Homo sapiens: one gene and its partner. The protein of the gene in region 1 purifies or fractionates together with the protein of each later gene. This does not show direct contact. Each region holds a gene or a part of one and is shown in the gene's direction. Other genes may lie near its edges.

The links.
Region 2: the proteins of INSR (region 1) and INPPL1 purify together in Homo sapiens (affinity purification with western blotting, with the first as the bait; 2 studies listed by BioGRID). This does not show direct contact.

Annotation. Positions count from the first base shown.
Region 1 is NC_000019.10:7,115,509-7,123,964, reverse strand, and holds part of INSR (insulin receptor isoform Long preproprotein), read left to right. Parts: intron 1-975; coding exon 976-1,086; intron 1,087-1,191; coding exon 1,192-1,351; intron 1,352-3,215; coding exon 3,216-3,345; intron 3,346-4,381; coding exon 4,382-4,516; intron 4,517-6,554; coding exon 6,555-6,909; 3' UTR 6,910-8,456. UniProt on the Homo sapiens protein: Receptor tyrosine kinase which mediates the pleiotropic actions of insulin.
Region 2 is NC_000011.10:72,234,767-72,240,375, forward strand, and holds the end of INPPL1 (phosphatidylinositol 3,4,5-trisphosphate 5-phosphatase 2), read left to right. Parts: intron 1-349; coding exon 350-437; intron 438-529; coding exon 530-685; intron 686-908; coding exon 909-987; intron 988-1,079; coding exon 1,080-1,220; intron 1,221-2,357; coding exon 2,358-3,030; intron 3,031-3,275; coding exon 3,276-3,409; intron 3,410-3,496; coding exon 3,497-3,587; 3' UTR 3,588-4,381; downstream 4,382-5,609. Other genes in the region: PHOX2A (paired mesoderm homeobox protein 2A), read right to left, coding at 4,983-5,516. UniProt on the Homo sapiens protein: Phosphatidylinositol (PtdIns) phosphatase that specifically hydrolyzes the 5-phosphate of phosphatidylinositol-3,4,5-trisphosphate (PtdIns(3,4,5)P3) to produce PtdIns(3,4)P2, thereby negatively regulating the PI3K (phosphoinositide 3-kinase) pathways.

The DNA of each region.
Region 1 (8,456 bases):
CAGGCGTGAGCCACCACGCCCAGCCTATTTTTATATATTTTTAAGACAGAGTCTCTCTCTGTCGCCCAGAGTGGAGTGCAGTGGCACAATCTCGGCTCACTGCAACCTCTGCCTCCCAGGTTCAAGCAATTCTCCTGCCGCGGCCTCCTGAGTAGCTGGGATAACAGGAGCCCACCACCACACCCAGCTAATTTTTGTATTTTTAGTAGAGATGGGGTTTCGCCATGTTGGCCAGGCTGGTCTCGAACTCCTGAATTCAGGTGATCCACCGGCCTCAGCCTCCCAAAGTGCTGGGATTACAGGCATAAGCCACCACCCCCAGCTGACTCCAAACCCTTTATACATTAGGAGCAAATGCTATGGAAACATGAAGAAAGGGAGGAAAGGAGGGTTGGACAGGGGTGTATTTGAGCAAAGACTTAGAGGACATGAGGAGCTGGGCCCTGTGGATGTGGCAGGGAACAGAGAGCCAGGCAGAGGGAATGATTAAAATACAAAGGCCTGGCTGGGTGCAGTGGCTATAATCCCAGCACTTTGGGAGGCTGAGGCAGGCGGATCACCAGAGGTCAGGAGTTCAAGACCAGCCTGACCAACATGGAGAAATCCTGTCTCTACTAAAAATACAAAAATTAGCCGGGTGTGGAGGCGGGCACCTGTAACCCCAGCTACTCGGGAGACTGAGGCAGGAGAATTGCTTGAACCCGGGAGGCAAAGGTTGCAGTGAGCCGAGATCACGCCACTGCACTCTAGCCTGGGTAACAGCAAGATTCCGTCTCGAAAATTAAAAAAAAAAAAATACAAAGGCCTATCTGTCTGCTGTCCGGGCAGGTATGTCTGCTCTCCTAGACCAGGGCTGAGCACGCTGCATCCAGGCCACAGGGTGCTGTGTGTGACATAGACACCAGGGAGGGAGGAGAACCCTGGTGAGTCGAATCACGGACCCTCCTCCAAGAACCCTGGTTGCTTGCTCTGCAGGTGCGCCTCCTGGGAGTGGTGTCCAAGGGCCAGCCCACGCTGGTGGTGATGGAGCTGATGGCTCACGGAGACCTGAAGAGCTACCTCCGTTCTCTGCGGCCAGAGGCTGAGGTAAGCTGCTTCGGGGGACCCAGCGGGGTACTCGGTGGAGCACCCGCTCCTGGCCTCCTCGGATCCCAGTGCTGCTGAAACACCAACCCCGTGTTTCTGTTTTAGAATAATCCTGGCCGCCCTCCCCCTACCCTTCAAGAGATGATTCAGATGGCGGCAGAGATTGCTGACGGGATGGCCTACCTGAACGCCAAGAAGTTTGTGCATCGGGACCTGGCAGCGAGAAACTGCATGGTCGCCCATGATTTTACTGTCAAAATTGGAGGTTCGTCTGGCTTTCTGCTTTGAAAACATAACGACCCAGGCCAGGTTTGATTTCAGAAGGAAGTTGTCTATAATGAGCCGTTAAGTCTTTTCTGATAATATAAAGGGGCAAGATACTTCTTTTTTTTTTGTGGGGTTTTTTTTGTTTTGTTTTGTCTTTTTGTTTTTGAGACGGAGTCTTACTCTGTCTGTTGCCCAGGCTGGAGTGCAGTGGTGTGATCTCAGCTCACTGCAACCTCCACCTCCCAGGTTCAAGTGATTCACCTGCCTCAGCCTTCCAAGTAGCTGGGACTACAGGTGTGCGCCACCATGCCTGGCTAATTTTTGTATTTTTAGTGGAGATGGGGTTTCATCCATGTTGGCCAGGATAGTCTTGATCTCCTGACCTCGTGATCCTCCTGCCTCGGCCTCCCAAAGTGCTGGGATTACAGGCGTGAGCCACTGCACCGGCTTTTTTTTTTTTTCTTTTTTCTGACATGGAGTCTTGCTCTGTCGCCCAGGCTGGAGTGCAGTGACAGGATCTCGGCTCACTGAACCTCCACCTCTTGGGTTCAAGCGATTCTCCTGCCTCAGCCTCCTGAGTAGCTAGGATTACAGGCGTGCGCCACCACACCCAGCTACTTTTTGTATTTTTAGTAGAGACGGAGTTTCACTGTGTTGGCCAAGATGGTCTCAAACTCCTGACCTCATATGATCCACCTGTGTTGGCCTCCCAAAGCACTGGGATTACAGGCATGAGCCACTGTGCCTGGCTGGGCAAGATTTTGGATGGGGACCCCCCACCAGCTGTCATTTAATTGCATGTATTGATAAACTCACTTACCCATTCACTTCTTTAAAAGATATGTTTGTAGGACCGGGGGTCCCGCCTGTAATCTCAGTGCTTTGGAAGTCCAATGTGTAAAGACTGCTTGAGTCCAGGAGTTTGAGACCAGCCTGGGCAACATAGTGAGACTCCATCTCCTTGAAAAGATTTTTTAAAAAGTGGGGTGTGGTGGTGCACACCTGTGGTCCCAGCTACTCAGGAGGCTGGGGTGGGAGGATTGCTTGAGCCCAGGAGGTGGAGGCTGCAGTGAGCTGTGACAGCATCACTGCACTCCAGCCTGGGTGACAGTGAGACGCTATTTCAAAAAACAAATAAAAAAGGAATATAGAGGGGACCAGAGCAGCGTGAGATGTGAGGATGAGGAGAGAGGCAGAAACCAGACCCAGAAGGACCTTGCGTGTCACAGCAAGTCATCTCGACATTATCTTACATTAGCAAGGGGCAGCAGGAAGTGATATGATTCTATTTATGACTCAAAAAGACATCTCCTGGCCAGGTGCGGTGGCTCACCCCTGTAATCCCAGCACTTTGGGAGGCTGAGGTGGGTAGATTACCTGAGATCAGGAGTTCGAGACCAGCCTGGTCAACACGGTGAAACCCTGTCTCTACTCAAAATACAAAACATTAGCTAGACATGGTGGCAGACAGCTGTAATCCTAGCTACTCAGGAGGCTGAGGCAAGAGAATTGCTTGAATCAGGGAGGTAGAGGTTGCAGTGAGCCAAGATTGCACCACTGCACTCCAGCCTGGAGGACAGAGTGAGGCTCCATATCAAAGAAAAAAAAAAAGAAAAATGTAGCTTCTTTGTGATTTGGTACCTTCTTTTCCCTCCCTTTAAACAGTAGCCCATCTTCCCCCTTCACTTCCCCATGCGTACCCTCAGAATCCATTCTTACTGGATTTGGCCACCACCCAGGTGAGCGCAGACGTGGGCCAGGTGAACCCCTCTTAGGGCTCTGTGAGAGGTGGGGCAGTCAAGGTGGCAGATGCTAGGACCAAGGCTGAAGGTTAAGAGCGTGTGAACCTTTTGTGTTGTCAGACTTTGGAATGACCAGAGACATCTATGAAACGGATTACTACCGGAAAGGGGGCAAGGGTCTGCTCCCTGTACGGTGGATGGCACCGGAGTCCCTGAAGGATGGGGTCTTCACCACTTCTTCTGACATGTGGTGAGTTGTGTGTGGATGGGTGGATGGACGCTGGGCTTGAATTCCAGGTGCTAGTGAGAGCCAAGAGCGGGGGAAGGAAGCCTGCCATCCTCCTGGACGCCCCATCAAGGAAAGGAAGGCAGCGTCCTGTCTTAGGATCTTCCCACGGCTACTCTTATGTCCTGACTAATCCTGTAGGCATTGTGAACCCCGAAAATCTGAGACAGGTCTCAGTTAATTTAGGAAGTTTATTTTGCCAAGGTTGAGGACGTGTGCCCGTGGCACAGCCTCAGGTGGTCCTGAGGACAGGTGCCCAAGGTGGTCAGAGCACAGTTTGGTTTTATACATTTTAGGGAGACATGAGACATCAGTCAACATATATAAGATGAACATTGGTTCGGTCTGGAAAGACGAGACAACTCGAAGTGGGGAGGGAGCTTCCAGGTTGTAGGTAGATAAGAGACAAATGGTTGCATTCTTTTGAGTTTCTGATGCGCCTCTCCAAAGGAGCCAATCAGATATGCAGGTATCTCAGTGAGCAGAGTGGGGACTCTGAATAGAATGGGAAGCAGGTTTGTCCAAGCAGTTCCTAGCTGGACTTTTTCCTTGAGTTTAGTGATTTGGGAGCCCCAAATTGATTTTCCTTTCACAGCATTTATGAACTGCAGCATGAATTGTTTTATTAAGTGGCTAACCATGTTCTAGAAACCAAGAGATGTGTTTGTGTGTGTGTTTGTGTGTGTATGTGTGTGCATATGTGTGTTTGTGTGTGTTTGCATGTGTGTGCGTGTGTGTGTTTGGGTGTGTGTGTTTGTGTGTGTATATGTGTTTGTGTGTTTGCATATTTGTGTGTGCATGTGTGCGCATGCGTGTTTGTGTGTATTTGCATGTGTGTGCACGTGTATGTGCGTGTGTGTTTGCATGTGTGTGTTTGCATGTATGTGTTGGCATGTGTGTTTGCGTGTGTGTGTGCGTTTGCGTGTGTGTGTTTGCGCGCGCGCGTGTGTGTGTGTGTCTAAATGGCTTCTTTGTTACTACTATCAACTGTCATCGGCAGGTCCTTTGGCGTGGTCCTTTGGGAAATCACCAGCTTGGCAGAACAGCCTTACCAAGGCCTGTCTAATGAACAGGTGTTGAAATTTGTCATGGATGGAGGGTATCTGGATCAACCCGACAACTGTCCAGAGAGAGTGTAAGTGTAGAAAGGGTTTAAGGTGTGTGAGGTGTTCGTTGAAAGGGTATTGCCCTTTACACGTGTGCTTGGTTTTGCCTTTCCTATGTCTACACGCTCACCGTGTTTGCATGCTGTATGTTACAGGTGTGTTTGTGTTTGCATAGCTTGTCTTTACATGCATGCTTGCATTTGCATATTGCATTGTGGTACACACACTTGAGTTCCCATATGTGCTACATGTACGCTTACGTTTGCATATTATATATTTACATAGGTATTTATGTTTGCATATTATATGTTTCTGTGTGCATCAGCATATCATGGCACATGTACACCTCATTTACATATTATAAGCACACATGTTTACATATTATGTCTTTACCTGCCTGCTTGTGTTCACAAATCATATGATTTTCTTGCATATTGTATCTTTGGAAGGTTGCACAAAACACCTATAGCGGTAGTTATCTTGGGAGAAGGGAACTGGAGACCTGGGGTTGGGGGAGAGAGACCTGTTTGCCTGTTAATTTTTTTTTTTTTTTTTTTTTTTTTGAGACGGAATCTTGCTCTGTCACCCAGGCTGGAGTGCAGTGGTGCGAGCTCGGCTGACTTCAAGCTCCGCCTCCCGGGTTCACACCATTCTCTTGCCTCAGCCTCCCGAGTAGCTAGGACTACAGGCACCCACCACCGCGCCTGGCTAATTTTTTTTTTTTTTTGTATTTTTAGTAGAAATGGGGTTTCACCGTGGTCTCGATCTCCTGACCTCGTGATCCACCCACCTTGGCTTCCCAAAGTGCTGGGATTACAGCCGCCTGTTAATTCTTTATACACTTAAAATTTTGTCAGGTAGCTGGGCATGGGTGGCTCACGCCTGTAATCCCAAGCAATTTGGGAGACCGAGGTGAACGATCACCTAAGGTCAGGAGTTCAAGACCAGCCTGGCCAACATGGTGAAACCCCGCCTCTATTAAAAATATAAAAATTACCCAGGCGCGGTCGTGGGCGCCTGTAATCCCAGCTACTCAGGAGGCTGAGGCAGGAGAATTGCTTGAATCGGGGAGGCAGAGGTTGCAGTGAGCAGAGACTGCACCATTGCACTGCAGCATGGGTGACAGAGTGAGATTCTGTCTCAAAAACAAACACAGACACACAAAAATTTTGTCAGGCATACATATTATATATTCCCCCCTCCAAATATATATGCATATGTACATATATATATATTTAGATGAAGTCTCGCTGTGTCACCCAGGCTGGTAGAGCGCAGTGGCACAATCACAGCTCACTGCAACCTTGAACTCCTGGACTCAGCCTCCTGGCTCAACCTCCCAAAGTGCTGGGATTACTCTTGAGCCAGTTTTGAAATGAGGAATCCCTTTTCAAAACCATCTTTCAGGCTGGACAGGATGGCTCATGCCTGGAACCTCAGCACTTTGGGAGGTTGAGGCAGGAGGATGGCTTGAGCCCAGGAGTTCAAGGCTGCAATGAGCTATGATTGCGCCACTGCACTCCATCCTGGGTGACAAAGTGAGAAACCCTGTCTCAAAAAAAAAAAAAAGCGGCCAGGCATGGTGGCTAACACCTGTAATCCCAGCACCTTGGGAGGCCAAGGTGGGTGGATCATTTGAGCCTAGGAGTTTGAGGCCAGCCTGGGCAACATAGCAAAACCCTGTCTCTGCAAAAAATACAAAAATTAGCTAGGCATGGTGGTGCACACCTGTGGTCCCAGCTACTTGGGAGGCCAAGGTGAGAGGATTGCTCGAGCCTAGGAGGCAGAGGCTGCAGTGAGCTATGATCATGCCACTGCACTCCAGCCTGGGTGACAGAATGAGACGCTGTGTCCAAAATAAGAAGAAGAAAAGCAAAAAGAAAACACCATCTCTCAGCACCTCTAGCAATGCTATTTCTGCCTTGACAATTGTCCACACACACAGCCAGCATCTGATGTGAGCACATGTGGTCCGTGGGTGTCGGCTGCAGGGACAAGAGTGGGGGTTTGGGAGGATGCGTGGCAGGGCCCCCAGACTCACCCAGGACGTGTCCTTCTGCCCCGCAGCACTGACCTCATGCGCATGTGCTGGCAATTCAACCCCAAGATGAGGCCAACCTTCCTGGAGATTGTCAACCTGCTCAAGGACGACCTGCACCCCAGCTTTCCAGAGGTGTCGTTCTTCCACAGCGAGGAGAACAAGGCTCCCGAGAGTGAGGAGCTGGAGATGGAGTTTGAGGACATGGAGAATGTGCCCCTGGACCGTTCCTCGCACTGTCAGAGGGAGGAGGCGGGGGGCCGGGATGGAGGGTCCTCGCTGGGTTTCAAGCGGAGCTACGAGGAACACATCCCTTACACACACATGAACGGAGGCAAGAAAAACGGGCGGATTCTGACCTTGCCTCGGTCCAATCCTTCCTAACAGTGCCTACCGTGGCGGGGGCGGGCAGGGGTTCCCATTTTCGCTTTCCTCTGGTTTGAAAGCCTCTGGAAAACTCAGGATTCTCACGACTCTACCATGTCCAATGGAGTTCAGAGATCGTTCCTATACATTTCTGTTCATCTTAAGGTGGACTCGTTTGGTTACCAATTTAACTAGTCCTGCAGAGGATTTAACTGTGAACCTGGAGGGCAAGGGGTTTCCACAGTTGCTGCTCCTTTGGGGCAACGACGGTTTCAAACCAGGATTTTGTGTTTTTTCGTTCCCCCCACCCGCCCCCAGCAGATGGAAAGAAAGCACCTGTTTTTACAAATTCTTTTTTTTTTTTTTTTTTTTTGCTGGTGTCTGAGCTTCAGTATAAAAGACAAAACTTCCTGTTTGTGGAACAAAAGTTCGAAAGAAAAAACAAAACAAAAACACCCAGCCCTGTTCCAGGAGAATTTCAAGTTTTACAGGTTGAGCTTCAAGATGGTTTTTTTGGTTTTTTTTTTTTCTCTCATCCAGGCTGAAGGATTTTTTTTTTCTTTACAAAATGAGTTCCTCAAATTGACCAATAGCTGCTGCTTTCATATTTTGGATAAGGGTCTGTGGTCCCGGCGTGTGCTCACGTGTGTATGCACGTGTGTGTGTCCATTAGACACGGCTGATGTGTGTGCAAAGTATCCATGCGGAGTTGATGCTTTGGGAATTGGCTCATGAAGGTTCTTCTCAAGGGTGCGAGCTCATCCCCCTCTCTCCTTCCTTCTTATTGACTGGGAGACTGTGCTCTCGACAGATTCTTCTTGTGTCAGAAGTCTAGCCTCAGGTTTCTACCCTCCCTTCACATTGGTGGCCAAGGGAGGAGCATTTCATTTGGAGTGATTATGAATCTTTTCAAGACCAAACCAAGCTAGGACATTAAAAAAAAAAAAAGAAAAAGAAAGAAAAAACAAAATGGAAAAAGGAAAAAAAAAAAGAACTGAGATGACAGAGTTTTGAGAATATATTTGTACCATATTTAATTTTTAAAGTCTCTGGTATTAGCCTCATAAGTTATTGACTATTCCCCGGGGTTGGCGGGGAGTGGGGACATGAGTTGGTCTGCCTGTTGTGGGGCCGGGAAGGGGAGGGAGTCAGGCACAAGTGGCCTCTTTGTTTGGTCTTAAAGGCATCCATTTCTGGGAATGAAGCCATGTTCGCTGCTAACACTTTTGGATGTTGTGAGGCCACGTGGAGTGTGTGAGAGACTAGGTTTTATGGATGGTCTGGTTCAGGTACCAGGTCTGCTGGAAGGTTCCTGTTCGGATAAGCTGGTAGCTACCTAGCTCTGAGCCTGCCTTCAAGAACACCTGTGTTCATCCTCTGATTCTCTGTGTGTACCTCTTGTGGCGTTTCCTCTCCCGGGTGTGAACATCCTAACCGTTATTGTGCAAACCCAAGAACGTCAGATCCCAAAGCACAACAACCTGGATGGACTTTGGGAACATCTAAGCAATGTAAGAGAGAGGTGCACTGAGAGTACGTCTTGGTCCCCTCCACCCTGAGAGCAT
Region 2 (5,609 bases), on another chromosome or scaffold:
GGGCATGGGCATGAGTGAGGATAAAGGCGTTTGCTTTATTTTGGGAGTGTGGAACCTTGTTGCAGTTTGTTCATTCATTCAGGAGATGCTTCTTGAGCTTTTGCTAGATGTCAGGTCCTGTGTTAGCTATTGAGAAAATTAATTAGTTACAGTGATGCTAGGTGCTGTAAAAGGCCTGTATAGGGCTGTGTCTTCTGCATTAAGGATTTGGCTCTTCTCTGAAGAGTTGAGTGTGAGTGAGCACAGATGACCTGAGGGTGGGGATTGAGTGGTGTCAGGGGGCAGCGCGTAGGAGGGGCAGGAGGAAGTGGCGGGGCTTTGTTCCTCACTGGGCCTCCCTGCTTCCCAGCTCAAACCAATTCTGGCTGATATCGAGTACCTGCAGGACCAGCACCTCCTGCTCACAGTCAAGTCCATGGATGGCTATGAATCCTATGGTGAGGGGTGAGGGGTGCTGAGGGGAACAGGAAGCCAGACAGGGCCCTAGATTAGCTTGGTAATTTGCTGGTTTGTCCCATCTGCTCCTCAGGGGAGTGTGTGGTTGCACTCAAATCCATGATCGGCAGCACGGCCCAACAGTTCCTGACCTTCCTATCCCACCGTGGCGAGGAGACAGGCAATATCAGAGGCTCCATGAAGGTGCGGGTGCCCACGGAGCGCCTGGGCACCCGTGAGCGGCTCTACGGTGGGGACTCCACTGGGACATGAGATAGGGTGGTGTGAACAGATCAAGGAGGGCAGGGTGCGGGGGGCATGTTGGAATCTCTGGGATACCTGGAGGTTCTGCAGCCACAGCTGGGAATAGTCCTGCCCCAAGGCATAGCTGGGAAAGGGCTGGCAGGCCCACTGGGTGTCTGTGGGATCCAGGAGCCCAGGTCTCCTCTGAGTCTCCCTTCCTGCCCCCTCAGAGTGGATCAGCATTGATAAGGATGAGGCAGGAGCAAAGAGCAAAGCCCCCTCTGTGTCCCGAGGGAGCCAGGAGCCCAGGTGAGCTAGGGCTGTGTTGAATGTCATATGAAAGGGTACCTGGGGGCATCTGGTCAACCCCACTTCATCTCTCTCCTGTGCATCCCTGGCAGGTCAGGGAGCCGCAAGCCAGCCTTCACAGAGGCCTCCTGCCCGCTCTCCAGGTTATTTGAAGAACCAGAGAAACCGCCACCAACGGGGAGGCCCCCAGCCCCACCCCGAGCAGCTCCCCGGGAGGAGCCCTTGACCCCCAGGTGAGAGGAGGAACCTGTCACCGCCCCCCCTTCCCCCACCCACCTCTATCCATCACTATCCCCTGCAGGGTCTCAGGGTTGGCCTGGAGATCATCAGCTGCTTAGGTGCCCTGCCACTCTGTGGTTGGAGCTGCCATGGCCTTATGCCTGTGGCCAGCCAGGCCACCCTTAGCTGTGGCTCTGAGTCAAAGGGAGCAGTCAGCCTTTCCTCTCAATTCTGCCTTTAAAAATGGAATGCGAAATTGTTTCTAAGACAGCTCCCTCCATGTAAACAGACCTAGCTTGAGCCTTCTATTTGGAGGAGGCACATGGCTCGGCCTGGGATTTCCCAGGGTACCTTCTTTGGAACTCTGTCCTGCAAGAGGCCCCAGTTGAAATGGGTTTGTGGTCAAATGAGTTTGGGAAATGCTTTTTCTAGATTCTTTTCTTAGACATTCCCAGTGCATGTTAGTATTAGCAAAAGCTCTGAGCATGTGGACAGGAAGGAAACCTCTTTTCAGCTCTGTTTAATATAGTTTCCCAAACTTAATGGGCCAGGAAACTTATTTTCCATGTAGTAACTATTAACGTTCTGGGGAATTAGTGCTCTGTGTCACACTTTGGGAAAGTGAGGCTTGCTTTCTAATTATATCCGATTGTTGCTTAAACTTACATAAACTCCTAGGTACAGTTTGGTGCTTTTTCACTCATCTTCAGCTGTTGTCAGTCACCCCGGTTTTATCCCTAGGCTTGAATAAGACCCACCTGAATCTCTGAGAAAGATTCTGCAGCGGATTGACTGTGGGTGCCTCAAGAGGCTTTCCAAACCTGGCCTCTCATTGGAGGCTTCTTGCCCTGTCTTCTGGCACCTCTATTCTGACCCATTTAGCTTGGGTTTCACAGCTACAGATAAAGTCATGAAAGATCTAAGTATCTTAGCAAGTGAGGCAAGGGATTGTAGGGTTATCCATTCAAAGGGTTATCCTCCCTCTGACCTTTAGAGATGAAGAAACTAAGGGCAGGTGATGTGCTCAAGGTCATGAGAAAGTCTAGGACCAGGGGACTTTCTGACTCCCGTCTAGTTCTCCTTCCACTGCTTCCACTGCCTTAGACCTGGGTTCCTGGATCCTGGCTTAGTCGTTCTGCTTCCACACCCAGGTTGAAGCCAGAGGGAGCTCCTGAACCAGAAGGGGTGGCGGCCCCCCCACCCAAGAACAGCTTCAATAACCCTGCCTACTACGTCCTTGAAGGGGTCCCGCACCAGCTGCTGCCCCCGGAGCCACCCTCGCCTGCCAGGGCCCCTGTCCCATCTGCCACCAAGAACAAAGTGGCCATTACAGTGCCTGCTCCACAGCTTGGGCACCACCGGCACCCTCGTGTGGGAGAGGGGAGTTCTTCAGATGAGGAGTCTGGAGGCACACTGCCCCCTCCAGACTTTCCACCTCCACCACTGCCGGACTCAGCCATCTTCCTGCCCCCCAGCCTGGATCCTTTACCAGGGCCAGTGGTCCGGGGCCGTGGTGGGGCTGAGGCCCGTGGCCCACCACCTCCCAAGGCCCATCCAAGGCCTCCACTGCCCCCAGGCCCCTCACCAGCCAGCACTTTCCTGGGGGAAGTGGCCAGTGGGGATGACCGGTCCTGCTCGGTGCTGCAGATGGCCAAGACGCTGAGCGAGGTGGACTATGCCCCTGCTGGGCCTGCACGCTCAGCGCTCCTCCCAGGCCCCCTGGAGCTGCAGCCCCCCCGGGGACTGCCCTCGGACTATGGCCGGCCCCTCAGCTTCCCTCCACCCCGCATCCGGGAGAGCATCCAGGAAGACCTGGCAGAGGAGGTGTGTGGAGCAGGGTGGCTGTCTGTGTGTGCCTGAGTGTGCTTGCCCACAGACTGGTACCCTTTCACTCCACCATTCAGCACTCATGGTGTCCCTGCTACCCTGAACTGATCACTGGGAAGTTGGGAGACACATGTATCAGCCCAGCCCTTCCCTTCCTTTTCCCCAGAGCATGCAGCAGAATGTGACTGCAGGTGTTTCTATGGGGGGCACTCAGCTCCCCCTGACATGCCCTGTTTCCTTAGGCTCCGTGCCTGCAGGGCGGGCGGGCCAGCGGGCTGGGCGAGGCAGGCATGAGTGCCTGGCTGCGGGCCATCGGCTTGGAGCGCTATGAGGAGGGCCTGGTGCATAATGGCTGGGACGACCTGGAGTTTCTCAGGTGGGGGAGGGGCTGGCCCCGGGGGCGGAGCTGGGGCCCTCAGGATCCCCTTGCCCATCTCACTTCCCAGCCTGTTTTACTCCACAGTGACATCACCGAGGAGGACTTGGAGGAGGCTGGGGTGCAGGACCCGGCTCACAAGCGCCTCCTTCTGGACACCCTGCAGCTCAGCAAGTGATAGCGGAGGCACCACGAAGCTGTGAACTCAGAGCCCCTCCCTGCTACCAAGGCCCAGCTATGGCCCCAGGGTTGAAAAGTTATGAGGGTCAGGGCAGTATCTCTCTGCCTATTTATTGGGGTGCCTATTTATTGGGGATCTGCATTCCCCGCTGCCCAATCATTTGCAATGCCCTAATTAGGGCATCCTGCCCCTCGCCTTTTAGGCTCAGGACGGAAGGTCAGTTGCCATGGTTACCGAGGACCCTGGTTACTCTGGTGCTGTCCTGTTTTACTGGACCCCGCCTCCCAGCCCCAGGGGTGCCTGTGGGGGTCCATTTGGGTACGTCTGGGCCCCCACTTTCACCAGTTTCTGCGGCCTTCCACCGGGCCTGAACCACAGCGGAGGAGCTCCGCTAAGACCTCCCCACCCCCGCTGGGGGTGGGGGCGGGTGTCCGTCCGGAAATGAAGGAATAGCCCGAGGACCGGGCTGGGGTTTATTTAAACTGTTCTGTGTGGGTCTGGGGAGGGAGAGCACCTTAATATTATTGGGGTTGGTTGGGGTGGGGCAGGATCTCAGCCATAAAGTGCCAGTTTGCTTAGTTCTCACTGTCTCCTGGTCTGTGCTGCCCTGCTCTGGGGATGCACGGCGGCAGGGTGGGGGAGGGAGGTTCCTCGCAGGTCTCAGCCCGGGACAGGGTCTTGCAAGCAGCCTCCTGGGCAGTCGTAAGGGTTGCGGCGTGATGTCTTCAATAAATTAAGTTTTATTTGGATTGAGTAAAACTTCAATAAATTACAAGTTTTTCAAAGAAAAAGGACAACCAAAAAAATTAGGGAAAGAGAATCCCTCTGTCCCATTCCCCAGGCAGCCCCTCCACTCCTCTAACAGGTCCACCCTCTGTGCCAGACGGGCTAGGGAAGAGAGGAGACACGTGAGGGATGAATTGGCGGTGGTCATTAATTATCCCGGCGACCACCAGCCTCTGTACGGGTGGGCCCGAGGGGTGGGGCAGCGGGCTTTCCTGATCACCAGCGTAAGGGGTGACCCAGCCGCTGCAGAGCCAGGGAAGGGGGCTGTGCCGATCCTCCTTGAGGACCTTCACTTTGAGGGCACTGTTAGGGACAGGCCTCATGTGATACCGCATCCAAAGAAGGCCAAGCTAGAAGGAGCTCCGGGGTTCTCCTGGAGGAGGTCCCGGTATAAAGAACTCCGCTCTGCTGGTAGAGGGTGGGTGAGGACGAGAGTGGCCCTGACTTGGTCTCCAAAGTTGGGGAGGACACACCGAGGGGTGAGACAGTAGGGAGTGGAGACGGATGGGGACTTCCAGGCGGGTGGCCAGGATGGGAGGGGCTGTCAGGTCCTGGAGGGGCAGGGACGTCTCTGGGGGCAGGCTCGGAGCCTCCAGAGGCCGGCAGCTAGAAGAGATTGGTCTTCAGGGCGGGGCCGGGCTTCCGGTGAAAGGAGGACAGAACCCCGGAGAAGGGCCCGGGGCCGGACTCCGCCGGCTGCCAAGCCTTAAGTAGTTCGGCCGCTCCCGCGCCAGGCCCGCCGCCCCCACCGCCCGCCACACCGGCCCACAGTGCGCCCTTGAGCGGCTGTGGCCCCGGCCCAGGTCCCGGCCCGGAGCCCAGTGCGACGGGCAGCGGGCTGGGGCTCAGGCGCGGGCTGGCCAGGCCGGGCGCAGGCGGCGGCGGCAGCGAGGCGGTGCTATCGGGCGTGGGGCTGCACGTGGACTCCTTGGAATCGTCGTCCTCGGAGGAGCAGCGCGCCTCGCCCTTTTTGGCGCCCGCCGCGCCCGCCGCGCCCTTGGCGCTGGCCGCGCGCTCCTGTTTGCGGAACTTGGCCCGGCGGTTCTGGAACCAGACCTGCGGGCACAGGGGCCAGTCAGCCTGGACGAGGGTCGGAGAACGCACGGGGTCAGCCCGCGGCCGCAAGGCTCGAGTGAGATCCTGGTTCGGAAAGAACCGGGCCCGGGTTCTTACTAGTTGGAGGGGCCTTCGGCCCTCCGCACGCAGCCCGCTGCACTCCGCGCTCCACTGGCC